7 linked regions of the Homo sapiens genome follow. The protein of the gene in region 6 interacts with the protein of the main gene of each other region in a biochemical or structural test. Each region holds a gene or a part of one and is shown on either strand. Other genes may lie near its edges.

Region 1 (3,500 bases), on a different chromosome or scaffold from region 6:
CTACAGGAAACCCTCAATACATGTTACCTAATGCTACTGTCTGAAAATGTGTCCCAGAATCTCTCTAGCCAACATAAAAACACATTTTATGATGTAACTCTTTACATCATAAATTGAGGAGTATTTCAGTCAATAAATGTTTATAAATAAATTAACGGTCAGATGTATTCCAAGTGGAAATGGACCTGACATTTTATTTTTCTTTGCAGATCTTATATTGCACTTTAAACACACCTAAAATTGACATGGAAAGACTCTTAGGAGGACAACTAGGACTAGAAGATTTCATATTTGCCCATGTGAAAGGAATCGAAAAAGAAGTGAATGTGTATAAATCTGAGGATTCACTTGGTCTCACCATTACAGATAATGGTGTTGGCTATGCTTTTATAAAGGTAAGTTTTAAAAAATAACAGTGTAACCTAATTGAGGATAACATTTAAGAAAATCTACCAGGCCAAAGAAAGTTAGAAATGATCTTCAGAGTGAGAGCCCGCTCAGCAAGGATGCATGAATTGGTAATGTTTCACTTTCATTTTAAAAATGTTCAGATGTCAGTTTGTGTTTACTATTTTCTTAATTTCTTCCCTTTAGTTTAAACTTCCCCTAGAATTTAGAACTAACTGAAAGGAAAGTCTAACCCTGGTGCCTACTCATTATCCATATAAGCTTTTCCATGTCTGTAGGTTTTAACATCTGATGAATTTCTGGCTTATTTCCATTGAATTAGTGTTATTTTCCAACTGTTCCTAGTTTTGACTGCCTTATTTACTTCTTTAAAAATGCCCTTCAAAATTTTAGGAAGTATATAAAGTTGGATCTCTGTATCTGTAGGTTCTGTATTAGTGGATTCAACCAACCACAGATTAAAGGTAGTTGAAAAAATGGCATCTGTACTGAACATGTATGGCCTTTTTACTTGTCATTATTTCCTAAACAATACAGTACAACTGCTTATGTAGCATTGCCATTGTGTTAGGTATTATAATCTAGAGATGATTTAAAGTATATAGAAGGATGTGGATAGGTTATATGCAAATACTACACCATTTTATACCAGGGACTTGAACATCAGTGGAATTTTAGTATTGATGGTGTGTCCTGGAACCAATCCCCCATGGATACCCAGGGCCAACTGTAATTCCTTTATTCAAATACAAAGAGAGCGATATAGAGCTTCAAAGGCAAGATAAAAGTTTGAAATGGTGTGAAACTAAGAACTGAGGAGAAAGGTAGTCTCATCTCTTAAAAATAACAACTCTATTATTGTAATAGTTATAATAGTAACAGACTTATATTGAATGCATGTACTAGGCACTTTGCATACAATTTCTCACTTAATTCTCACAATTCTATTTGGTTGGTATTATGTTTTTTCTTTGTATTTATTTTTTTGTTGCAGTATAAGACATTTTTAATGTACAGCTTAATGAATGTTTACATACTTATCCCTGTTTAACCATCACCCAGATCAGGATAAATTGCATTTCTGCCACTCAGAAGGCTCATTTGTGCCCCTTCCCAGTCAATAATCTTTCCCCGCAAAGTAGCCATTATTCTGGCATCTATTGCCATGAACTTCATATAATCATATATTATATACTCCACTATTTTCGGCTTCTTTTGCTCAAAAAGATGCCTATGAGATCCATGGATAGGTACTATTTCCAACCTTATTTTACAGATGTGGAAACAGGCTCAGGAAGGTTAAGTAGCTTGCCCAAAGTTATACAGCTGGACACATTCAGGATTTGGATCTATGAGGTCTGACTTCAGAGCTGGCACTTCTATTCACTCGATTAAGAATTAATGATAGATTTCATGCAACAGGGAATATTTTGTGCCTTTATTTTGTCCAAATCTTGATTTGCTGATGCATTGTCACCATTAAATAATCTTAGGGAAGTTATCTTCTTAACTGTAAATGGGACTTTCGCTACCCACTTGATAGAATGGCTATTTTTAGCTCTGCAAAAGATATGACTGTGCTGAAGGTTGAGTGAGTGACCAAATGGAAAATCTGTGACTGGGAAAGTCATATGGGATTATCCAAGGGAAGCTCAGGACATGAGGCACAGGCAGCAGAGAAGGGCTTGGAAGTTTCACAAACGTGTGTGGATTTTTAAAATCTTAGCCTCTGACATTCAGAGCTTGTCTTTCTATTTTTTAAAAAATGCTTTGTCAAACATGTGCCTGACTCAGAGTACTAGTCACTAGCCCTGTGGAGATATAGGGCATGTTAGCAAAGGAGAAAGCAAGGCATAATCTAAACTGCCAACATATAGTTCAACTTAGAAGAGAGATGCACATTATACTGTATACATGGTTGATGAAATTTTTTAAAAATTGGGAGAGGATAATTTCAAACTTACATAAAGATTGCAATAATAATACAAAGAACTCCCATAAATCATTTATCCAAATCTCCAATTTTTACCATTTGCCATGTTTGAGTTTTTTGTTCTGTCTCATACACACACATATATATATATATACTCTTTACCCCTTAGTACTTCAGAGTGTAATTACTAAGAACAAGGATATTCTCTTACATATAACTACAGTACAATTATGAAATTCATACAGTCTAATATTGATATAATACTTTTAAACTAATCTATAGTTCACATTGTAGTCTTATCAGCGTCCTAATTGTGTTCATTATTTTCCCCTCATACAGGTCCAATTTAGGATCCTGTATTTCATTTATGTCTTTTTAGTCTTCTTTATAATCTAGAATAGTTGTCATGTCTTTTTAGTCTTCCTTAATCTAGAATAGTTCCTCAGCCTTTTATAGGATGTCCCTGAATTTGGGTTTTTCTGATGTTTCCTCATGTTGATAAATAGATTGTGCATTTTTGGTAGGAAAATTACATAAGTGATGCTGTGTCCTTCTCAGTGCACCACATCAGAAGGTACATGAAACTGGTTTGTCTCATTGTTTGTGAGATTAACTTTTGTCACTTGTCTGAGGTAGTGTCCACTAGTCTTTTTCACTACAAAATTATTTTCCTTTGTGATACGTAATTGTGGAGAGATGCTTTGATATCATGAAAATACCCTGTTTTCTTACTTGCATGGCACAAATTTAGTATCTGTTGATGAGTCTTACCTGAATTAATTTTTCCTATAATGGTTGAAAAAATGATGATTTTTCTAATTCCATCACTCCTTATATGTTTCTCTGAAAGCATTTTATGGTAGGGAAAAAGCTGCCCTTATTTATTGTCAACATGGGTACATGACTTCGTGTTTTACTGAATGGTTTATAGTCTGTTACTATCAATTATATTGATGCTCAAATTTCCTGAGACTTGGCCTGCAGGAACCCCTGTAAGTGGGCCCCCATGTCCTTTTGACATGGCTCCTATCATTTTATTGAGTAGGTTCTTACTTTCTAGAACACAACAAGATATTCTAGACCCATCTTGTATCTCCTTTTCCCCTGACCTAGAATCAACTATTTCTCTCAGAAGCTCTGATTTTTACTAGAGATTGAT
Region 2 (3,500 bases), on a different chromosome or scaffold from region 6:
TATGACTAATGTGTGCAGAGTGTTGTGTGAGTCCAGAAGAGGAAGCAGCTAATCTGAAGATGCAATATACTGAGGAGATGCAATTAACTGTCCAAAAAAGCCCTGTTTCAAGGACTCTGTATAAAGTCTTCCCCCTGGCTGCCAACGTTTTTCATTCTAATCCACTTTCCGTTACACCAATTCAAAAGTTTGTGAGATGAAAGAATAGTGGAGCATTTCAGGTAGAGATGCTGGTCTGTGCAGTGAGCATGGTGGCATAAAAAGAATATAGGAGAACTTAAATTGATAACTCAGTGTAGCTGTGTTTTAGGTTGTGCTATAGGAGCATTCAGGGGATACATCTGAGCAATAGATTTTCATCAAATTATATGGTGAACTTAGGATTTGGGCTTAGTATTAAACATTGCAAAACCAAGGTGTTATTTAAACTGGAATAACATGATTCGATTTGTTTCTTAAGGGGAAATTCCGGTGAATATGGAATTAGAAGAAGAGAGGTTAGAAGCCAAGAAAAAGATTGTACAATAAATTCTTCAACTATGGAATGTTTTTAGATGGTTAATTGTTCACTTCTTTGGTATATATATATTTTTTACTGAATGCTGAATAATTTGTTATTTAAAAATCCTCAATAAAGAAATCTGAAAAAATTCAGTGATCAGTCAGCATTTTCAGTTGTTCCTATGTGTTATTATTTTTTTTTTCTAAATGTGTTTCCTAGTCTCAAGGAAATTTCTGCTAAGTGTACTGAATCTAAACCTCTATTATGTTTGTATAATTTCATTCTTTTGTTGTGTGGAGGTTTGAATTCATCATAAATCACCTTAAAGTTCCATAAGCCCAAATTAATTATACTCATATTTATGATATGCTACATTTGTGCTTCTTTATCATATTTTATCATTGTAAAATTGATACAGCCTGATCATTGAGATCCTTGATCTGTTTAATGCTATCTACTTCAACATATAATATCATGGGAAAATTAACTTTGTTAATTTGAAACACTTTTCTTGTTTACTTATTTAACTCTTTAAAGTTTGCATTTCTGTTTTATACTTCTTTTAATCTATGTTATGTGGTGTTGACATTTCGCTTGACTGATGATTTTTTTAACTGTTAAATTTTGTATATCCAATTTAAAAAATGAAGTCAACCTAATTATACCACTTTTGTAACTATCTGACATATTTTTTTCTGGTTTCTATGTACTAATGTAGTGAGCTTTTTTTATGTATATATATTTTTTCAGAATACTATTGTGGAGGCTTCTATTCAGCTTCCTCCTTCCCTTTTCTCACCAAAGCAAAAAAGAGAACTCAGACCAACTGATGACTCTCTTTACAAGCTTCAACTCATTGCATTCCGCAATGGAAAGCTTTTTCCAGCCACTGGAAATTCAACAAATTTGGCTGATGATGGAAAACGACGTACTGTGGTTACCCCTGTGATTCTCACCAAAATAGGTTTGTATGTGGCATATGTTATCCTGTAGTCAGTGGACAATAAGGCCTTGTAGTTGACTGTTCCTAAAAATGCTTATTTTAGTGTTTTCTCGTTTTAATGAGTCACTAGTGAAGAAAGATCTTGCAGAGTACCCATTACTGTAGAAGTTGACATTTATAATTGGTTATGAAGTTTGTTTCAGAAATATTTTTATTTCCCATTTTCTCCAGATGGTGTGAATGTAGATACCCACCACATCCCTGTTAATGTGACACTGCGTCGAATTGCACATGGAGCAGATGCTGTTGCAGCCCGGTGGGATTTCGATTTGCTGAACGGACAAGGAGGCTGGAAGTCAGATGGGTGCCATATACTCTATTCAGATGAAAATATCACTACGATTCAGTGCTACTCCCTTAGTAACTATGCAGTTTTAATGGTATGGCAGTTGTTAACTTTATGCATAAACACTATTCTACATTTTTGCTATGCATAATTAAGCTCAAATGAAGTGTTTTTTTGTTTTTTGTTTTTTTTTTTTTTTTACTTTTAACATAATTTGCTCCCTTTGATTATATGAGATGATATGTGTTCTAATTTTGATTTTAAAGGGAAATTAAGTTACTACCAAGTGAAATGTATGGGATTGAGTTTGGTATATAGGAATTTTAAATCAACTTTATAAGTCAATCAGTTCAGTTAGTCTTTGACCTTAAAACTTGGAGAGACTGTTGATGCAGATTCCCTCTGCCCAGAAAGAGTGATTTCATTTGCCGAAGGATACACAGTGAGTAGTGAAAGAACATTTTCCTACTTTGCAATCTAGCGCTGTTTCCCACTACATGTCGTAATTGTTAGACTCTATTTAAATTTAGAATTAATCATGATAATTTCATTTTTGTCATTGCAAGTGACAGTATTGACACAAAGAATGTCTTTTCAGTTTTAATGCCAGTCTAGTGTTGTTTTCTGTTATTTGCCGTTGTTAACACTAATTACAGGTTGAGTCTTATCTCTTATCTGAGATGCTTGGGACTAAAAATGTTTTGGATTTTGGATTTTTTCAGATTTTGGAATATTTGCATTATCACTTACCAGTTCATCATTCCTAATCCAAAAATCTGAAATCCTCCAAGGAGCATTTTCTTTGAAAAGTTTTAGATTTTGGAGCATTTTGGATTTAGGATTCTTGGGTTAGGGATACTCAACCTGTAATTTTTGGGGGGTAAAATAACAGTTATTAATGTACAGGAGCAAGTGTTTTTATTAATGAGGTCTTTAAGTGAATCTGACGTCTGAGCAGATAATTATGAAATAAACCATGCTAGTTCTTATTTTATATTGTAATTATTATAAATACTGACATCAAGGAGTATATTTAGAGTACGGTGGAAGGAATTACTGACGAGTGTGAAAGACATTTCCCAGAAATGGTTTGAGGTTACTCTGGGTGTGAGGAACTTCTATGTTATTTCTGATTCCAGCTGTAAATCTGTTTTCTAGAAAATGTTTTATCAAAGTGCTAAATACCTTGAAACATGATATATTTTACATTTCATGAATTTTTCTTTTCTTAAAAAAATAGCATTTAGCACTAGAAATGATCTTGAAGTAAACCTGAATTATAAATAATTTTCTTTGACTCTTGTATGTTTTTTTTTGTTGTTGTTGTTGTTTCAATTCAACTTATACCTTACCTGGTACACAGGTCAAGCAAGCAGAAAGGTGAATAGATTATTTATCAGAGTAAAGGGATTATCTTTTCATTGACATAATTGAGCATTTTATACAAGTGCAAGCAACATATTTAAACATGTATGTTTATAGACTCGGCTATATTTGTATATTTGTATATATAAAGGACCTTTATTCAATTGGGATTAACTTTAGTGTTGACAGTTTATGATTCTGATTCTCTTTGTAAATGGAAGATGTCTTGATTTCTGTAAGCATGAGTCTGGTTTCTATAAGTTCACATTTTATTATTGTGTAGTCAACTTATATTTATTTTTTGTTTTTTTGAGACAGAGTCTCACTCAGGTTGCCCAGGCTGG
Region 3 (3,500 bases), on a different chromosome or scaffold from region 6:
AATGCTATCAAAGGGTATTACATGCTACAGATAAATATTGCATGAAAGAAAGAGTCAATCAATGCAGCATACTACTTCATTGTTGTCTGATTTTAAGAAATTGCCACACCCCTCCAACCTTCAGTAACCACTACCCCAATCTGTCAGCAGCCATCAACATTGAGGCAAGACTCTCTACCGGCAAAAAAAGATTATGACTCCCTGAAGGCTCAGATGACTGCTAGCATTTTTTTTTTAGCAATAAACTGTTTTTTAATTAAGTAAATTTTTAGACATAATGCTTTGCTTTTGCACACTTAGTAGACTAAAGTATAATGCAAACATAAATTTTGTATGCACCGGGAAACCAAAAAATTCAAGTGACTGGCTTGATTGCAATATTCACTCTATTGTGGTAGTCTGGAACCAATCCTGCAAAATCTCTGAGGTATGCCTGAGTATCTTTAGTGACTGCTTCTTGAGCACCTGTAGGAAACTGTGCTAACACCTTAGAATTAAAACAAAATCACAAAACATGACTCCTGTCCGGCAGAAGATTAAAGTAAAATTTATGAAGCAGATATAATGGAAGAAAAAAAAAGAAATTCCAAACATCATACAAAGTGAAAAAGAACAACAGAGAGAATTAGGAACTGCTTTATTGTGGGGTTGGGTTGAACTTGCCTCTCCAGGCTTCAGAGAAGATTTAGGAGGAAGGAACAGGAGGTGATCCCAAATGTTGTCAATGGAGACCACAGAGGATGGATGTTTCTGATGTGCTTAGAAATGATTTGACTTTAGAAAACTAGTAAATCATGGTAGGTAAAGTCAAAAACAAAGGTAGGAAACAGGTAATGAATGACCTTAAGTTTCAGAATAAGTAGTTTCAATTTGTGTTTTAAAGGCAGTAGGAAGCCACTAAGGGTTTGAAAAGGAGAGAAGAAAATAAATATATGCAACACAGCATTCTAAGAAAGTCATGTTCCAAGTCCAAATGAAAGAAGTATTTAATACTTCTATAATATTTTTAAGAGGCAGTATATAAAATGAACAGGAAAACTAATTAAAAAGTGAGAACGCTAATAAAGTTTGCACTTTTGTCTTAAAGACTGAAGGGAAAAATTCACAAAATATACTCCTTAATGAAAATGAGAAAAGGCAATCAAAAACACTGAGTCTATTTTCTTTGACCAAATAAAAGTTGAGACTAGTGTTCTTGGACCTATTAACTGGATTTTGTCATCTATGCACACTGCTTTATAGTTACTTTAAATATCAATAGCATTGTGGATTGATGAAGAAAACTAATAGTGCACATTACACTTTTTAATACCATATCATCTAGTGATTTATTATTGTTCGCATCAAATTAATGTTGCTTCTTCATTTAAAACAAACTTCCGAAAGTGAATTTTTAGAAAAACATAAAAGATAACAGTATAATCCATTATTCTCTGCATTCATTGATGCAGTAGCAAAAGTTCCTTTTCCTATTATTGTCACTACAAAACCTATGAGTCCAATAAAGCAAATTTCTTAAACTGTGTTTTTATATATTACATGTCATGGTAGGCATCTTTCAAATGATAATTTATCATTGTTCTGGTTCCACTGAAATTTAATTATCTCAATGCCACAAATACAGATCACTGCAATGGTGTAAGAAAAGCTTTTTTATTTTTTTAATAGCAGTCAAGTTGATGTTTTAGCTTAAAACTAATAAAAAATAAGAGTATCTAAAAGACAGAAAATTCTCTAAAAATATGTCTACTTTACCTGTCCACATTGTGACATACATATTTTATTCATAAGTAAAAAGATTAAACATCATTTGAAATCAAGAACATAAATATTTGACAAAATGACATGTTCTTAGTCTCAAAAGGGTGACAACATTTTCTTTGAACATTCTGTCAAAAATAATTATGGGAAATGATTGTATTAAGCTTAAGAAACATAATTTATTATAAAATACAAATAAGGTAAGCATAATTTTTTAAATTCTATATAATTAACACAATTATATTTATTTGAAAAAAGGTATAAGAAGGCTGGAATTAATATGGGTAGATTAGATATTTAATAAAAATTATCTATACTTATGGACTTAAAAGAAAAAAGACATGTATAAATGTGGATGCCATGAAAAAAGAACAGCTTTATTTTATTATCATAATATACTATGTGAAGGGTCCAGGATGAGTAATTAAAATCCAAGTGCATCATAAATAAGATGTTTTCCTCTAATTGAAGTCCTTTATAAATTCAATATCACCATCAGATACAATTTTTGACAGTGACTTAAGAATTCTACTAGCTTAAATTGTTATTCATCTGTTTCCCCAATGCTCCTGTATTCTAACCAGTATTATCAGATGGCAAAATAAAGCAATATTATACTTGATAGTTCTATCTTAGGTGCATTTTAGGAATCTTTTCACACTTATTTGGGGTCAGATTTACTCCTGCTGTTTTATTTTCCTAATAAGTTTTTGAAATGCTTCCTGTTTCTGCCCTAAAACAAAACACTCGTCAGTAGTACAACACTAATTATTCTACTGTTTCTTCTGTATTTATATTTTTGGAAAAAACATTCCCTATTTAGCCTTTTTCAGCTGGAAGATAAAAAATATTTTTTCTACAGAAAACTAGCTTATCTTCAAAGTTCCAATACTGTGTATCTAAATGCTTTCTAGACATTTCCTCTTTATACTTTAAATAACATATTTGAATGGATGGATGAAGAAAATTTGTGGTATATATGCAAAGTAGAATACCATTCATCCATAAAAAAGATGAAATTCTGTCATTTGCAGCAACATAGTCAGTGTTAAATGAAATAAGCCACAGAAAAACAACATAGTCAGTGTTAAGAGAAATAAGCCACAGAAAAACAAATATCATGTTTTCATTCAAATGTGTGAGCTAAAATAATTGATCTCATGGAGATAGTAGGCAGAATGTTACCAGAGGCTGGGAAGGGTGATGAGGAGGGGAAGATGGAGAGAAACTGGTTTATTAGTAACCAAAATACAGTTACACAGAAGAAATAAATTCCAGTGCTTCAAAGCACAGTAGGGCAACTATGCTTAACAAGACTTCATTGTATATTTCAAAATAGCTGGAAAAGAACATTTGGGATATTCCTAACACAAAGAAATTATAAATGTTTGGGGTAATGGCTACCTCAATTACCCTGATTGATCATTACATATTTTATGCATGTATCAAAATATCACATGTACCTCATAAAATGCACAACTATTATATATCAATAAACTTAATTAATTAGAAAGTCAACATTTATTAAAAATACATATATACCTGGACCCACATATCATCTCTTTTTTTTTTACTACCCAACAGCCCCTCTTTCCTGCCTGGAAAATTGTCTCCCCATTCTGACTTGTTTTGATGAAACAACATTTTTTTTTTATTTTTGTAATCACACAGTTTGAAACCCTAAAGCTGTGTTAAACTTCTTTTTCAATTCCCAAATCAATAATCAAGTCTCATTTTCT
Region 4 (3,500 bases), on a different chromosome or scaffold from region 6:
TTTTCGTAACTGATGTATAGGCACCGTCCCATTTAATGAATGATTAAATTCATTAAAACAACGAAAAGTCAGTCATAAGTGTTCTGATTTTAGGAAAAGGTATAGTGATGAAGTTATAGTTCTGAGGAACAGGGAACCTTGTCTTTTAGAAATCATGTTAAGAGGCACAGTGATAGGCAATTTCACCTTAGGAGATTCTAGTTAGCTCTTGATTCTGGGCTAGACACTGCTGCCAGCTGTGTAACCTTAGGTAAATCACTTAGCCTTTCTGGGTCCCAGCGTCTGGGGCAAGTGTTAACTAAAGCCTTCCCTGGTACTAATTTTGTAGAGCTCTTCCAACTAACTGTGTTCTTTGGTTAGAAAAACATCTTCATTGTGTTGAGACTGCTATGACAGAGACACTTTTGTTGTGACATATCTCACTTGGTTTTTAAGTAAGATCAGAGGTAAGCAAACGCTACCTGGCAAGCTGCCAGAACTGAGGTGCTGGTTCCTCTCTTTCTCAATTTGTTTGATTCTCTCTGGCTAGTAGGAGCTCCATGGGCAGTGACTGAAGCATTTTGTTTGTTTTTTAAATGTATTTTCCTTGACAAATAATAATAATATATTTTTTAAGTTTTCATTTTTTTTTTTTTAATTTAGAGACAGGGTTTTGCTCTGTTGCCCAGGCTGGAGTGCAGTGGCTATTCATAGGCGCCATCATAGTGCACTATAGCCTGTAGCCTCAAGCTCCTGGTTGATCGCCTCAAGCAATACTCCCACCTCAGCCTCCTGAGTAACTGGGATTACTGACATGCACCTTCTCACCCAGCTGTATATATTTATGGTGTACAGTGTGATATTTTGATGTACGTTTACAGTTGGAGTGATTAATCAGGCTATTAACAAATTACACCTCATATAATTACCATTTTTGTGGTGTAAAAAACATTTAAAATCCATTCTAGCACTTTTGAAGTATACAATGCATTGTTATTTATTGTATCTCCATTCTGTGGATATCACCTCCCATCTGTTAGAATGGCTGTATAAAAACAATGAAAGGTAACAAGTATTGGTGAGAGTGCAGAGAAAAGGGAACGCTGTGCACATGTTAGTGGGAATGTAAATTAATACAGCTGTTATGTAAAACAGCATGGAGGACCTTCAATGAACTAAAAATAGAATTACCATATGATCCAACAATTCCACTGCTTGGTATATATTCACAGGAATTGAAATCAGTATGCTGAAGAAATATCTGCTATCCCATGTTCATTGAAGCAGTTCTCAAAATGTCTGAGATATGAAAGCAACCTAAGTGTCCATCATCAGATGAATGGGTAAAGAGAATGTAGTATCTATACACAATGGAATATTATATAGTCTTGAAAAAGGGGAAAATCCTGTCATTTTCAGTAATGTGGAGGGTATTATAGTAAATGAAGTAAGTGTAAGTCTGGCACAGAAAGATAAGTACTGCATGATCTTGCTTACATGTGCAATCTAAAGAAGTTTACTTCATAAATATAGAGATTAAAGTGATGGTTGCCAGAGTCTGGGGGAAGAGGGTGGTTGGGGAAAGTGGAGATGATGATCAAAGTGTACAAAGTTTTGGTGAGACAGGGGGAACATGCTTTAGTGATCTATCGCACAGAATGGTGACTAAAGCATTCTTGATCGCATACTCACCAATTTCCTCAGATTACCTCTACCTCCTGCATGTCCTCATCTGTTAGCACACCCCCCCATTCCTCCCCCCTCCCCACCCCGCCTTAAAGTGGTGGGAATTATTCATGGAGAAAGCTAAGACCTTTGCAGATTGTTTTTGCGTTCATTTGTCCAACAGGCTTTTATGCACAGATTCACAGATGAGTCATGGCATCTTCCTGAGCTGAAGGCTGCACCCCTCAAACCTAGCCAGATGTTTTACATGTGTGAGCTTAGTTAAGCTTGACAGGAGAACACGGGCTGGATTGATCGGTGCAGAAAATCCATGAACCTTATAAGAAACAAAACTCAGAACAAGCTGATCTGAAGTCACAGTGTCATTTAAAAAATAAATTGTGTGGTGCGAGTATCACTCAGTCATCACATAAATTCCTGTATTCTATTTTTCTTGAAGGAGTTTTTGAACTCATCTGGGTAGGAATCATGTTCCTTTTTAAAGCCCCTTCTATGTTGGTGGAAGAAGATGCACCTTCTCGTATTCATACAGGATAGTTAGGTGTCTTTCTCCTTAGAAAGATGCTTTAATCATAGCGTATGTGTGTGATAGAGCGTAATAAGGATGTGTTTCCTTTACTCTTAGTTTTTTGTAGTTTCTTAGCTAACAGTTTCTTAAAGTGTTTTCTATTAGTGGTCCTATGATGTATCTACATAGCATGTAAAGCTAAATAATAATGTTCTGCTTGGAATTGTTTGTGACATTTAGAGCCTGACACAGGATTCTAAACTTTAAGTGGGAATAGAAGAGAAATGATTTATACCTCCCAGTAAAATACCACCGAAGGGCCATACAGACAGTGGGATAGCAGCTTATGTTCTTGATCTGGCCTCCTATGGGAATGGTCTATAAAAATGTTCCCCTCTTTTGGTCATTCCCCTAAGTGACAGTTCTTCACAAGGCCCCTGAAGCCACATAGAGATGCTGCTCTTCCTCTATGATCTTGTTTTTTTTTGTTTTTTTTTTTTTATTTTAGAGGCTGTTATGGTAGCTAGTACGAGGGAGATTATACAAATTTCAAGAAATTTAGGATTTCCTATCTCTAGCTCTATTCTTTTCCAAAAGGAGACAACATTTTCTGAGTTATGTTTGATACAATATGTCTATGTTTCTATCACAGTGACTTCATGCTGTGAATATATACATCAGAGGAACATTAAACTCTAATGAAACCCTTCTAAAAGGCTGTAACCGTAACACAGTAATACAATGTTTTACTTAAAAAGTGAAATTATTTTATCTGAGTCTACCCTTTGAAGTTGAATGGTAATTTCTATTTAAGAGATGAGAAAACAGTTTCATAGAGTTTAAGTGACTTACTCTAGATTAGTAGCTTTTAATCTTGTTTGACTATTACCCATAAGAAATATAGTTAATTTCCTGACCTAGTATATATATAAATATCCCCCAGTACCACCCCACACACATATAATTAAAACAGCACTTGCTTATACTCTATGTAATGTTCTATTCTTTTTTGTTAAAAAAAATACTTGTCACTAAATTGACTTGTTAATGGGTCCTGACCCACAGTTTGAAAAACACTGCTTTAAATGCTACATTTGTGATACCAGAAGGACTGCAACTCACATCTTACTGGGTTTCTGTGAAGTTCCTTTCATGACATTGGCAAGGAGTTGATGGTGGTGGTGGTTATTGTCTTTGATAGTCAGATATGTGGGTTTATTTTAACAAAGAATTTAATTATCCTTTTTTCCTTCAGTCTAAGTCAAAGTCTGTCTTCTGTAGTATTTCTTATTAAAGATGGAACAAATATTTAAAGCCATCACATGCA
Region 5 (3,500 bases), on a different chromosome or scaffold from region 6:
GGTGACCTCATCAGACACTTTCAACCTAGTAATTCCTTTCTTTAACCTAGCCATTTTATTTCTTGGAATTTACCCTAAGAAATAATCAGAGCCATGCATAAATATTTATGAATAAGAATGTTCATTGTAGGATTATGTATAATAATAAAAACGGAATACCTATGTGGAAATGTCTAAATAAACTATGGTATATCTATAGAATGGAATATTATATGCCCATTAAAATCATGTGCTCAAAGATTATCTAAAGACATGGGAAGATGCTTATGATACAATTAATGTTAAGGAAAAATCAAGATCAATATAGCATACAGAGTTTCTAATTCATTCAGGTACACACCTCACCTGAAAGGATTTGATGGACTCTATCAACAGAGAATTGTTTTCATTTCCCACCACTGTCACCTTCACCTCATCATCTGCCAGATTCAAGACTTGTAGGAAAACCTCCTGGGGACCTGGCTGGGCTGGGGCCATTTCCTTAGAGCAAAGAACACATGTCAGAATCACCAACAAATAATCCTTCAGATACAATGGCAACACATATCTCAGTTGTTTCTGACAGCCTAGTCCACTAGCCAAGTAGACATAGTTTTCTCCCTCTGAAAAATATTTGGCTTAGAAAACTCTAAAGGCAGCTTGGAGAGGGAAACATCAGCTCATTGTAGCAAGTACCAATGCCAGCTTACAAACTCGATGCTTTTTGACTCAGCTGTGGCCTCATCCGTAATAGTGGCTATTCAATCTGCCAAAAGGTTTTTACTTGAGTATGTAGAAAGGCATCACATAAGCCTGTGTTCCCTAAGGAGAGGGCTCTCTTGGATATTAGTGTTTGAGAATTCCCTGAAAATACATTCTGAGTCACTCAGGTGGGAGGTGGGCCTCATTTTGCATTGCTGTTTTACCCCTGTATCTACTTATTTATCACAAATACTTATGATGCACCTCTTATAAAACAGGTACTGTGCTAGGTCCCAGGGAATCATGACTGAACAAGTCAAAAGAGCAAATAAGAAAGATATGATCCTGCCCTCATAGAGCTTAAGAATTACTGAACTCACATTTATTTTTATCTCTACAGCTGCCGCAACTGCAAATGCCAGGCATGCTAGGATCATACCAACAGCCATTTTCCTAAGTGATCTGTGGTGGAAAGGAGAAACAATTATATCTAAACTTTAGACTCTAAAGGATGAAATCCAAACTCTGTAGCCTATTATTAAAGACTGCATTAGACTGTTCTTGCATTGCTGTAAAGAAATACCTGAGACTGGGTAATTTATAAAGAAAAGAAGTTTAATTGGCTTATGGTTCTGTAGCTTTACAGGAAGCACAGTGCTGGCATCTTCCAGCTTCTGGTGAAGCATCGAGGAGCTTTCAATCATGGGAGAAGCCAAAGGTGGAATAGGCATGTCACATGGTGAAAGCAGAAGCAAGCGAGGAGATGGGAGGTGCCACACACTTTTAAATGACCAGATCTTGTGAGAACTCATTCACTATCATGAAGATAGCACCACAGAATGGTGCTAAACCCTTCATGAGAATTCACTCCCATGATCCAGTCATGTCCCACCAGGCCCCACCTTTATCACTGGGAATTACATTTCAACATGAGATTTTGGCAGGGACAAATATTCAAACCATATCATTCCATCTCTAGCCCCCCAAAAATCTCATGTCCTTCTCACATTGCAAAATACAATTATATCTTCCCAATAGTTCCCCAAATTTTAACTCATTCCAGCACAAACTCAATCAAAAGTTCCAAGTCCAAAGTCTCATTTGAAATAAGGCAAGTCCCTTCCACCCATGAGCCTATAAAATCAAAACAACTTATTGACTCCCCAAATAAAATGGGGGTATAGATACTGGGTAAACATTCCCATTCCAAAAGGGAGAAACTGGCCAAAACAAATGGGCTACAGGCCCCAGGCAAGTCTGAAACACAGCAGGGCAGTTATTAAATCTTAAAGTTCCAGAATAATCTCCTTTGACTCCATGTCCCACATTCAGGGCACACCAATACAAGGGGTGGGCTCCCAAGGACTTGGATAGCTCCACCCTTGTGGCTTTGCAGAGTTCAGCCCCTGTGGCTGCTCTCACAGGTTGTTGAGTGCCCGTGGTTTTCCAGGCCCAGGGTGCAAGCTGCCAGTGGGTCTATCATTCTGGGGTCTGGAGGATGGTGGCCCCCTTCTCACAGCTGCACTAGGCAGTGTCCTTGTGGGGACTCTGTGTGGGAGCTCCAACCCCACATTTTACCTCCACACTGCCCTAGTAGAGGTACTCTCTGGGGGCTCCACCCCTGCAGCCGGTTTCTGCATGAACACCCACACTTTCTCATACAGCCTCTGAAATCTAGGTGAAGGGTGCCAAGCATTCTTCATTCTTGCACTCTGTATGCCTGCAGGCTTAACACCATGTAGAAGCCACCAAGGTTTATGGCTTGTACCCTCTGGAGAAACAGACATGTCACATGGTGAAAGCAGGAGCAAGTGAAGGGTAGGGAGATACTACATGCTTTTAAATGGTCAGATCCCACTAGAACTCACTATCATAAGGACAGCACCAACGGGATAGCACTAAACCATTTATGAGGAATTCATCCCCATGATCCGACTACCTCCCACCAGACCCCACCTCCAACATCCAACATTGGGGATTACATTTCAACATGAGATTTGAGTGGGTACAAATATTCAAACTGCATCAAAGACTTTTCCTGATTTGATCCCAATTACTTTCCTTTTTTAAATCCATGTTTCCATGACCAATTACTTTTCAAGGGATTTCCTAGAACTCCCCTTCATACATTCTTCTTTCTTCTTGTTCTTGAGTCACATTGAACTGCTCTTCTCTGTGATACACCACATTTACCCACCTCCATCTTTGCTTATGATGGTTTTTCTATTCGCTATGTCATAACACCAAAAATAATGGCAATACAATCAGGTTTATTGAACAAATGCCATATGCCAAGTGCTGTACATGCTTTACCTCACATTCCTCTGCAGAAATCTGTTGGCTTTGGCAGGGGAGGGACTTTTTCTTTTCTACCTCTCCTTGGCACTTGATCTTCCCTTCTTAGGACACTTATTTTACCTGTGTAGTAGTTGTATTTTATATATATATATATATATATATATATATATATATATATATATATATATATATATAGTCTAGCCCCTTTACTAAGTAATAAACTGTTTGAGGGAAATGTTGTTTTTTTTTTTGCTTGATTTATATTTTCATGACACTTGGTCCTAAACTTCCCAACATTTGCTCAATGAACAAATGACAAAGGGCCATTTTCATCTGGTAAAGTGGTCATCACAATGAAATTGCTATTAAATCAAGAATGAAAGAAGGCTTGAAACTTTCTTTTGCCAAACTCTAAAAAAGACTAGTCCTTCTATTTAGAAAAAATTTCAGGCAGTAATTGGGAATAATTCAGTCCCCAGTCCTACTAGGTTCCCCATTTGTTTTGTAGGGACAACAGGAGA
Region 6 (3,500 bases):
TTGCTGAATGCATGGCCAGTGTGACCAGGATGTTCCTCCTCCATGATGGCATCTGTAGACCCCAGTAGCTCTGCACCAAGTGCTGCGGTACTGTAGCTAGACTGAGATTCCACAGCGTTTTTTGGGGTCCTGTAGGGGTTTCCTGAAAGACTTAGCTGGAACATAGCTGTGTGCGTATGTGCATGTGTGAGAGAGAGGGAGAAGGAAGGGGATTAATTCGTGCAAATAGTCATTGTGAGCAAAAGAAAAATCACAAAGCCAGCCTCCTCAGCTAAGGGGGTGGGGGTGGGAGGTGAAGGTGAGTGTATAGGACACATGGATGGTGACTTTTTGTTTTTAATGAAATGGAGTAAATTCTAATTTCACATAAGATAATCACATCTGGAAAGAAATAGTCCTCTTTGGCCTCCTTTAATTTCTTTTTCTTATATCTTATACTTAAATAAATTCTACCTCTTGCTTAATACACGTTAAAGGTAAGATTAGAGAATCAACTTTGAACATGGATATTCATTCAGAAAGGTTTAATTGGGCCTCTGTGAGGCACTGAGCTGCGCTCTGAGGAAGCTGGCTTGCCAGTGTGCATGTGCAGGATAATTAGAGACGTGCAAGGGCTCTGCGGCCAACATAAAGGTGAGAGGCTACAAGTGATTAGATGGACAATTTTATGTGATTTTAAAGTTGACCTTGAAGGAATAAAACCTAGGTAGGTAGCAGAAAGGGAAGTGGCGTTTGGAAGTTTCTGCTTGAATTGATGGACAGGGGCCGGTGTTGAGTCAGGGAGAGATGGGGTCTGAGCCTGGCCCGGAACGGCTGGTCTGGTGTTGCTGTGATTGCATGGAGAGGCAAGCGGGGGGGTGGGGCTAGGGAGGCAGGACCACAAGTCGCTCCTGCCAGTGAGCAAGTTGCTTATTAAACACCTTGGGTGCATGCATGAGAACTGCTGAGGGGCTGTGGGACCCAGGGGCCCCGTGGACACAGTCCCTGCCCCCCAGGGAGCTTGGTCGGTTTGAGGAGAAGTGAAAGGACTTATGGCTCACAGTGCTCAGTGCTGTGTGTCTGTGCTCTGGATGCTCTGAGAATATGTGTGGACTGACTTGCTGAGCCTTCGGGGCAGCATTCTGTGGGCAGGTACTATTTTGTACCCATTGTACAAGCTAGGAAGCTGAGGCACAGCAAGATGATGTAATCGTCTGTGGTCATACAGCCTCCAATACAGAGTCATCCCAGGGAGGGTGTCAGGTGAAATGCTAGGCCCAAGGCCAGACCATGGGGCAGTACTTCTCAGCCAGGGGTGATCTTCATCCCCCAAAATGTATGGAGACTGTTTGGGTTGTCACGGAGGAGAAGGTGCTGCCAGCATCCAGTGGGTAGAGGCCAGGGATACTGTCAAACATCCTACAATGCACAGGACAGCCCCACAGCACAGAGTTATCCAGCCCCAAATGTAGGTAGTGCTGAGGTTGAGAAACTGCCTGAGCGGCATAGGAGTTCAGATGCAAGAGAGAGAAATCGATGAGAGAGGGAAGCTGGTTAGGGATGGTTTGTGGGGAGTTGGTCTGAGTCTAGAAGGGTTGGGGAGGAGGAGCGGGGATAGGGGGTTAAGTAAAGTATTGAGTAATATTTGTGTTCCCTCCAAATACATATTGAAACCCTAATCCCAATGTGATGTTATTTGGAGGTGGAGCCTTTAGGAAGTGATTAGCAGGAGGGTGGAGCCCTCATGGTTGGGATTAGTGCCCTTAAAAAAGGGACCCCAGCAAGCTCTCTTTTGGTATGTGAAGATGCTAGAAGTTGGCCATCTGCAACTCAGAAGGGGCTCTTGCCAGAACCTGACAGTGCTGGTACGCTGAGCTCAGACTTCCAGCCTCCAGAACTGTGAGGGATAAATGCCTGTTGTTTATAAGCCACCTAGTCTGTGGTACTTTGTCATGGCAGACTAAGAACAGACTCAGACAAGGGGAGGACTTAAGTAAAGGTGGGGATGGGGCCTGGGCAGGAACAAGCCGCGCTTCCTGAGGCCCTTAAGACTCCAGCTCATGGCCTGGAGTCACCTCCTTTCCTCCTCAGGACAGCCCACAAGGGGGACAGCAGATGCTAGGTGCACAGATGGGCCATCAGAGACTCTAAAGGCACAGGAGACTTGCCCAGGGCCCCCAGCTGGCCAGTGAGTCCCCACCCTCCTGCGAATCGCTCCTTCCTTATCTGCGTGGGGACCAGAGGAGGGAAGCAGTGAGGCTATGAGGGCAGCCTGACTCCCTCTGCAGCTGCCACAGCATCAAGGTGGAAGCAAAGCTTGCTGGAGTACAGACGGAGCTCTGTCTGCACAGTTTCCTAAGGGGAAATGGATTGTTTGAGGAGCTGAACTTTGATGTCTATAAATGTAATCTCTATAGAACCAGAAAATTAAAAGGCCGAGTGGTGATAAAAGAGATGTAACTGATGAAGATGAAGAGTAAGAAAAGAAAAGCAGTGCTTTCGTGGCCACCCATAGTGAAGAAGTACTTAGCAGGGCAGACCCCGATTAGAGCACAGCTGAACTTCCTCCCTGCCACAGTGCGCCGCTTGTTGAATGGGGAAATGTGATGGTCCGTCCGTGGACCACCCTGGCTGGTGGGAGGTGTAACCACTGATAACAGCCAGAATCACCAGTACCAAATACAGACTGACATCAGTGGGTCGTATCACCTTTTTAAAATTCTCTAGAAAACACACCCCTTTTTGCCTGCACCTGGACAGATGTGCACACTGCCCTACCCCCACCCCTCGGGCCACTGCAGAGCAGCATCTGGACCACTTCAAGGCTGTGTTCAAATTTGTTTCAGTGTATGTCCATGCTCTTTGCAGTGACTTTGACAAGCAACTCTCATCCTGATGAATCAGTGCTTCTCAAACTGATTGGAATCACCTGGGGATCTTGTTAGAATGCAGGTCTGATTCAGCAGGTATAGGGTGGAATTCTGCATTTTTGGCAGGCTTTGCGGCGGGGATGGCATCACCAGTCTGCAGGCTACACTTTCAGGAACAGGGATCCAAAGTGTGCATTCTGCATCTGGCCACTTCAATACTGGTTGACTATTGTCCCCCCAGGTTACAGGAAATCAATTTCTAGAGTAGAATTATAGGTATTGACTTGCCTTACTCTTCCTACCTTATTTTTTGGGTCATAATTAATTCCCAAGGCATAATTATTGGTGGGTGGAACATTTTACAGGCTGCCTCTTTCTGTGCCTTTGCCTCTGTGGTCCTGCCCTCTGGGTTTTTGCTCTGTTTTAGAATAGCGCACAGCTTCCCTTGCTTCCCCAGGAGCATCATGGTTCTGCTCTCCCGTTGCTATAGAGACCATTCTGGCTTCTCTTTTCTCTCTTCGCCCCTCTTCTCTGGGCTTCCCCTCCCACCAGATTTCTTAATTTGCTGTACCGTTCCACTGTTGTCATGGGGACCAAATGACCCTTTATTTAATTGGCACCTCCAATAAAATGGCAGCTCAGAAATCCAAG
Region 7 (3,954 bases), about 35 Mb from region 6:
ACAGAGCGAGACTGCATCTCAAAAAAAAAAAAAATGTGCCCAGGGTCCATTATAGGCCTGCACTCGTAGAAATACGAGGGTTGAGATTTCAAATGCTCATCTGCAGGGGAGACAACATATCACACGTGTCCAGGTTACAGTCAGATATGTCATTCTGGAACACTATGCGGGTGCTCAAATACAGACTCCTAAATTGCTCTGACAACAGTAGCAATTCTAGTCCCTTAAATGGCTTGTAGTCATCGTGAAGGCTGAAGACCCACTTCCCCGGTCCTTCTGATTGTAAACCAATGTTTTCCTAAAATTCCCTAGCATTAATTATTTTAATGGTTTGTGGAATTATTTAATGGTTTGTGGAAGCACTTGGGAAACAGGCTGACAATGGAAACTTTGTATTTGAAAAATATTGTAATATCTGTAGAGGTTCTACTCAGGAATACTTTCCATGCTTCCATACTTTCTCTGATTTAGGAGAAAGTTTCTCAAGAGAATGATACTCTCAACAGAAACGGAAAGTTTCTCAACAGAAAGCCTCCATTATTTTTGTGGTAGGTATGAGAAGAATAGGTTGAAATAAAAGGGGAGATGAAAACTTAAGGACTTTAAGTTTTGTTTGAAAAGAAGATCATAATTTAAGTCTGGGTTCTAAACTACGGCCGTTAAAAAAAAAAGAAAAAAAAATCAAGAAAATTCCACTCTTTAACTTGGGGGAAATTTTTGTGAGGTTCTCTTCGTGGGAAGCAGGGATTCGGCCATGGAGGGCAAGTGACTTGCTGATTTCAGTACCCAGAAGGTTTTTTTAAATATGAAATTTGTCCACTATGAGATGAATGTGTATATACTACCCATTCTCTTCTTGAAGTGTCAATGAAAAGTCGGATTTTAAAAGCTAATGGTATCAGTGCTGCAAAGGCAGGCCAATTACTGCCAGTGCCAGACAACTTTTTTCTTTGTTTATTTTTAATCTTATTTCTTTGCTTCTTTTTGATAAAAGATATACCTAAAGAGGCACCTACACATAACCCTGGCACCGTCCGCCGCCCCAAGAACCTTCCTGCTTTACCAATGGCCTGGGAGTTGGCAAACACGCTAACAAAAAAAAAAACCAAAAAAACAAAAAAAAAAAAACAAAACGGGCTTTCGCCTCAACCTCATAGTTCCTCCCCGTCTGCAACCACCGGTCTTCACCGGATTCACAGTCGGAACCGCGAGCAAAGACACCTAGTAGAGCCGGCCGATTCCTAGGTCCTCCGGCCAGGAGGCGCTGCGGGCCAGTCTCCGGGGGCCACCGCAGCCCGCGCGCCCAGCACCCCCACCCTCACGGCAGAGCCCAGCCCAGCCCCGCGGCGGAGCTCCGAGTTCTGCGCCGCCCGCCGGGGTTACTCCCGGTCATTCCACGGCACCACCTCGGCCCAGCTTCCCCATCTGCGCCCAGGCAGAAGCTGCCCCGAGAGACCAGCAGCAACGGTCTGGAAGATGGGGCTGCAGGGAACGTGGGAGAGGGAGGATTGGGCACCCCACCTCCGGGTCTCCGCAGGCTCTCCTAAGTCTTGTTTTTAAAAGAAACAAAACTCGGCCGCGCGCGGTGGCTCACGCCTATAATCCCAGCACTTGGGGAGGCCGAGGCCGGTGGATCACCTGAGGTCGAGGGTTCGAGACCAGCCTGGCCAACAAGTTGAAACCCCGTCTCTACTAAAAATACAAAAATTAGCTGGATGTGGTGACGCGCCTGTAATCCCAGCTACTCAGGAGGCTGAGGCAGGAGAATCGCTTGAACCCGGGAGGCGGAGGTTGCAGTGAGCGGAGATCGTTCCATTGCACTCCAGCCTGGGCGACAGACCGAGACTTAAAGGAAAGAAAAAAAAGAAAAAGAAAAGGAAACAAAACTCGTCCGCGCTCTGCGCCAGGGACACCAGCTCAGCTGAGCGCACGGAGACTGTAGGCAGGACCTCCCTACCCCTCAGGTCAAACAAAGACCCAAGGCCTCTAGTGAGCAATAGCACCACGGACCGTTTGGGACACCTCCAACTCGAGTTCCCGGATTCACAGTCCGGGACTGTGCCGCTCCAGTCCCGGGGAGCATATAGCCAATTCCCAGGTCAGAACAGACCAGCTTCTTAAGAACCGAGTGAAGACTCAGTGCTGGCATTTGTCTCCGTAGGTACTGGCCGACCTGCAACCAGAAGGGTTTCTAGCCAGCTCAGGGCCCTCCGAACAAAGCAGCGCTCGGTGCCGGACCTGCAGCTCTCCCCACCCGGCAGCAGCGCCCTCAGCACGCCCGGGAACCCCCGACCCCTCTGAGCCCGGGGTACTGCGCCCGGGTCTCCACGCCCAGAGATGCTCCCCGGTCTCCACCGTCGGGCAAGCCCCAAGCGCAGCAGCGCAGAGTCCTGGGGTCACCAGAGCTCGTACTAGGACATCGTCTCCCCATTTAACACCGCCTCCGGTCCCATCTGAGTTGCAAGTGGTGGGGATGTGGGGCTCCGGATCAAAGTCCCCGAAACCGAGCACTTCCCGAAGCCTCCTTGGCCTCGAAACAAAACAATAACGCCCAAGTAAGTCACTGGAGAGCCTCTTACCTGTTTTCCACTTTTGTGTTTGCGTCTCTTTCTCCTACCCCTTGACAAGCCTTCCGGAGAAGGGGAGAAAACAGAACCGGGGAAAAAACAAGGAGCAAAGCGCCCTGAGAACCGGCTCTGTTGGTGCGCGGAGCTCCCCGCCCTGCCCTGCCGCAGCCCGGGAGAGAAGGGTCGGCTCGGCTCTGCGGGTCCCGGCCCCACTCACTCTCGCTCGCAATTACGGGGTTTTTGCCGGGACTAGTTCCTTTTATAGATTCGGCTGCACCGAGCGCAGAGGTTACTATCGGTCAAAGCCTGTGCTCTCCCTCCTCCCCGCCCCGTTCCCGGCCTCTGTTTATGTAGTTCAGTCACTCAGCAGAAAGCACGTGGAGCCGGGGCCCGCCCCTTAAACGGGCGACGTTCAGCCGCCCACGACACATCTAGGGAGTTGGGGGGAGGTGGGTGGGGTGGGGGTGGAGGGTACAGCAGGTGTCTTAGGGTCCGCGGTCTGCGTCCCCTTCCCCCGCCCGGGCCCGCCGGCCTAAGACGCGCGGGAAGCGCTGGGCTCGGGGCTGCGCCGCAGACTCTCTAGTCCACGTTCCCGGCAGCCAAGGGCACCAGTGGAATTTGCTTCCTCTAAATCCTGCTTTCCGCAATTTTTTTTTCCTTTGTTAGTTTCCTCAGCCGGAGGGAGGGATTGGGGGAGAGAGAGCTCTAGGCTGAATCTCCCTCAGGACGCCAATCATTTTGTCTTGTCTTTTGTTTCCTTTCAAAGGCCTAGGCTGGGGTGAGGGGAAGGCGGACAGTCCTCTGGGTAATGGGCTGCTTTTGTTTTCCCCCCACAAACCTGGACTTTGATTTTTGATAGGCGACCTACTGCCTTGGAGATTCCCAGCCTGAGCTCCCCAGGTCCCTCAGAGGACCCGAGAGGAACATCTTACTGCTTCTCTTCATAAATTGAGAGGAAGGAGGCCACAAAAACAAAAAAAGAAACAAACAAACAAAAACACAGAACAATATGGACCAGCCCCCTTTTAATTTCATTATATTGATCAGCCTCCCTGTGATAAAAACACAGGACTTGTATTTAGTTTGTATACATTTGTGAAGTGCAGCCAGAGAATTGCAGTCGTGTAAAATTATGTAGCCACTCCAGACCTCCAACTTATCTGTTTGCCTTTGGCTGTAGGGGAGCAAAACTACCCAAAACACTGGAGGGGCAAAAAAAAAGGCAAGAGTAGGAATGCAGGCCTACACACCATATGTCTAAATATTTAAGTCATCCATCAAGCCAACAAACTAAATGTCACCTTATTCTGGCCAAAACTCAGGTCAAACTGTGAAGAGTCTAAATATGAATCTGCCCTGAAGGGCAGATTCATAGAAGACTCAGGAC

The links.
Region 1: the proteins of APBA1 (region 6) and GIPC2 interact in a test that uses a peptide from one of them, tested with the Homo sapiens proteins (one large-scale study listed by IntAct).
Region 2: the proteins of APBA1 (region 6) and ADGRA3 interact in a test that uses a peptide from one of them, tested with the Homo sapiens proteins (one large-scale study listed by IntAct).
Region 3: the proteins of APBA1 (region 6) and KCNT2 interact in a test that uses a peptide from one of them, tested with the Homo sapiens proteins (one large-scale study listed by IntAct).
Region 4: the proteins of APBA1 (region 6) and DOCK4 interact in a test that uses a peptide from one of them, tested with the Homo sapiens proteins (one large-scale study listed by IntAct).
Region 5: the proteins of APBA1 (region 6) and SLC15A2 interact in a test that uses a peptide from one of them, tested with the Homo sapiens proteins (one large-scale study listed by IntAct).
Region 7: the proteins of APBA1 (region 6) and ABCA1 interact in a test that uses a peptide from one of them, tested with the Homo sapiens proteins (one large-scale study listed by IntAct).

The regions. Positions count from the first base shown.
Region 1 is NC_000001.11:78,080,466-78,083,965, forward strand, and holds part of GIPC2 (PDZ domain-containing protein GIPC2), read left to right. Parts: intron 1-209; coding exon 210-395; intron 396-3,500.
Region 2 is NC_000004.12:22,411,567-22,415,066, reverse strand, and holds part of ADGRA3 (adhesion G protein-coupled receptor A3 precursor), read left to right. Parts: intron 1-1,252; coding exon 1,253-1,466; intron 1,467-1,676; coding exon 1,677-1,885; intron 1,886-3,500. UniProt on the Homo sapiens protein: Orphan receptor that may have a role in planar cell polarity pathway.
Region 3 is NC_000001.11:196,230,941-196,234,440, forward strand, and holds part of KCNT2 (potassium channel subfamily T member 2), read right to left. Parts: intron 1-3,500. UniProt on the Homo sapiens protein: Sodium-activated and chloride-activated potassium channel. Produces rapidly activating outward rectifier K(+) currents. Contributes to regulate neuronal excitability.
Region 4 is NC_000007.14:112,199,900-112,203,399, reverse strand, and holds part of DOCK4 (dedicator of cytokinesis protein 4), read left to right. Parts: intron 1-3,500. UniProt on the Homo sapiens protein: Functions as a guanine nucleotide exchange factor (GEF) that promotes the exchange of GDP to GTP, converting inactive GDP-bound small GTPases into their active GTP-bound form. Involved in regulation of adherens junction between cells.
Region 5 is NC_000003.12:121,925,401-121,928,900, reverse strand, and holds part of SLC15A2 (solute carrier family 15 member 2), read right to left. Parts: intron 1,144-3,500; coding exon 1,062-1,143; intron 481-1,061; coding exon 346-480; intron 1-345. UniProt on the Homo sapiens protein: Proton-coupled amino-acid transporter that transports oligopeptides of 2 to 4 amino acids with a preference for dipeptides. Transports neutral and anionic dipeptides with a proton to peptide stoichiometry of 2:1 or 3:1.
Region 6 is NC_000009.12:69,445,372-69,448,871, reverse strand, and holds part of APBA1 (amyloid-beta A4 precursor protein-binding family A member 1), read left to right. Parts: intron 1-3,500. UniProt on the Homo sapiens protein: Putative function in synaptic vesicle exocytosis by binding to Munc18-1, an essential component of the synaptic vesicle exocytotic machinery. May modulate processing of the amyloid-beta precursor protein (APP) and hence formation of APP-beta.
Region 7 is NC_000009.12:104,925,356-104,929,309, forward strand, and holds the start of ABCA1 (phospholipid-transporting ATPase ABCA1), read right to left. Parts: upstream 2,801-3,954; 5' UTR 2,580-2,800; intron 2,556-2,579; exon of another isoform or gene 1,434-2,555; intron 1-1,433. UniProt on the Homo sapiens protein: Catalyzes the translocation of specific phospholipids from the cytoplasmic to the extracellular/lumenal leaflet of membrane coupled to the hydrolysis of ATP.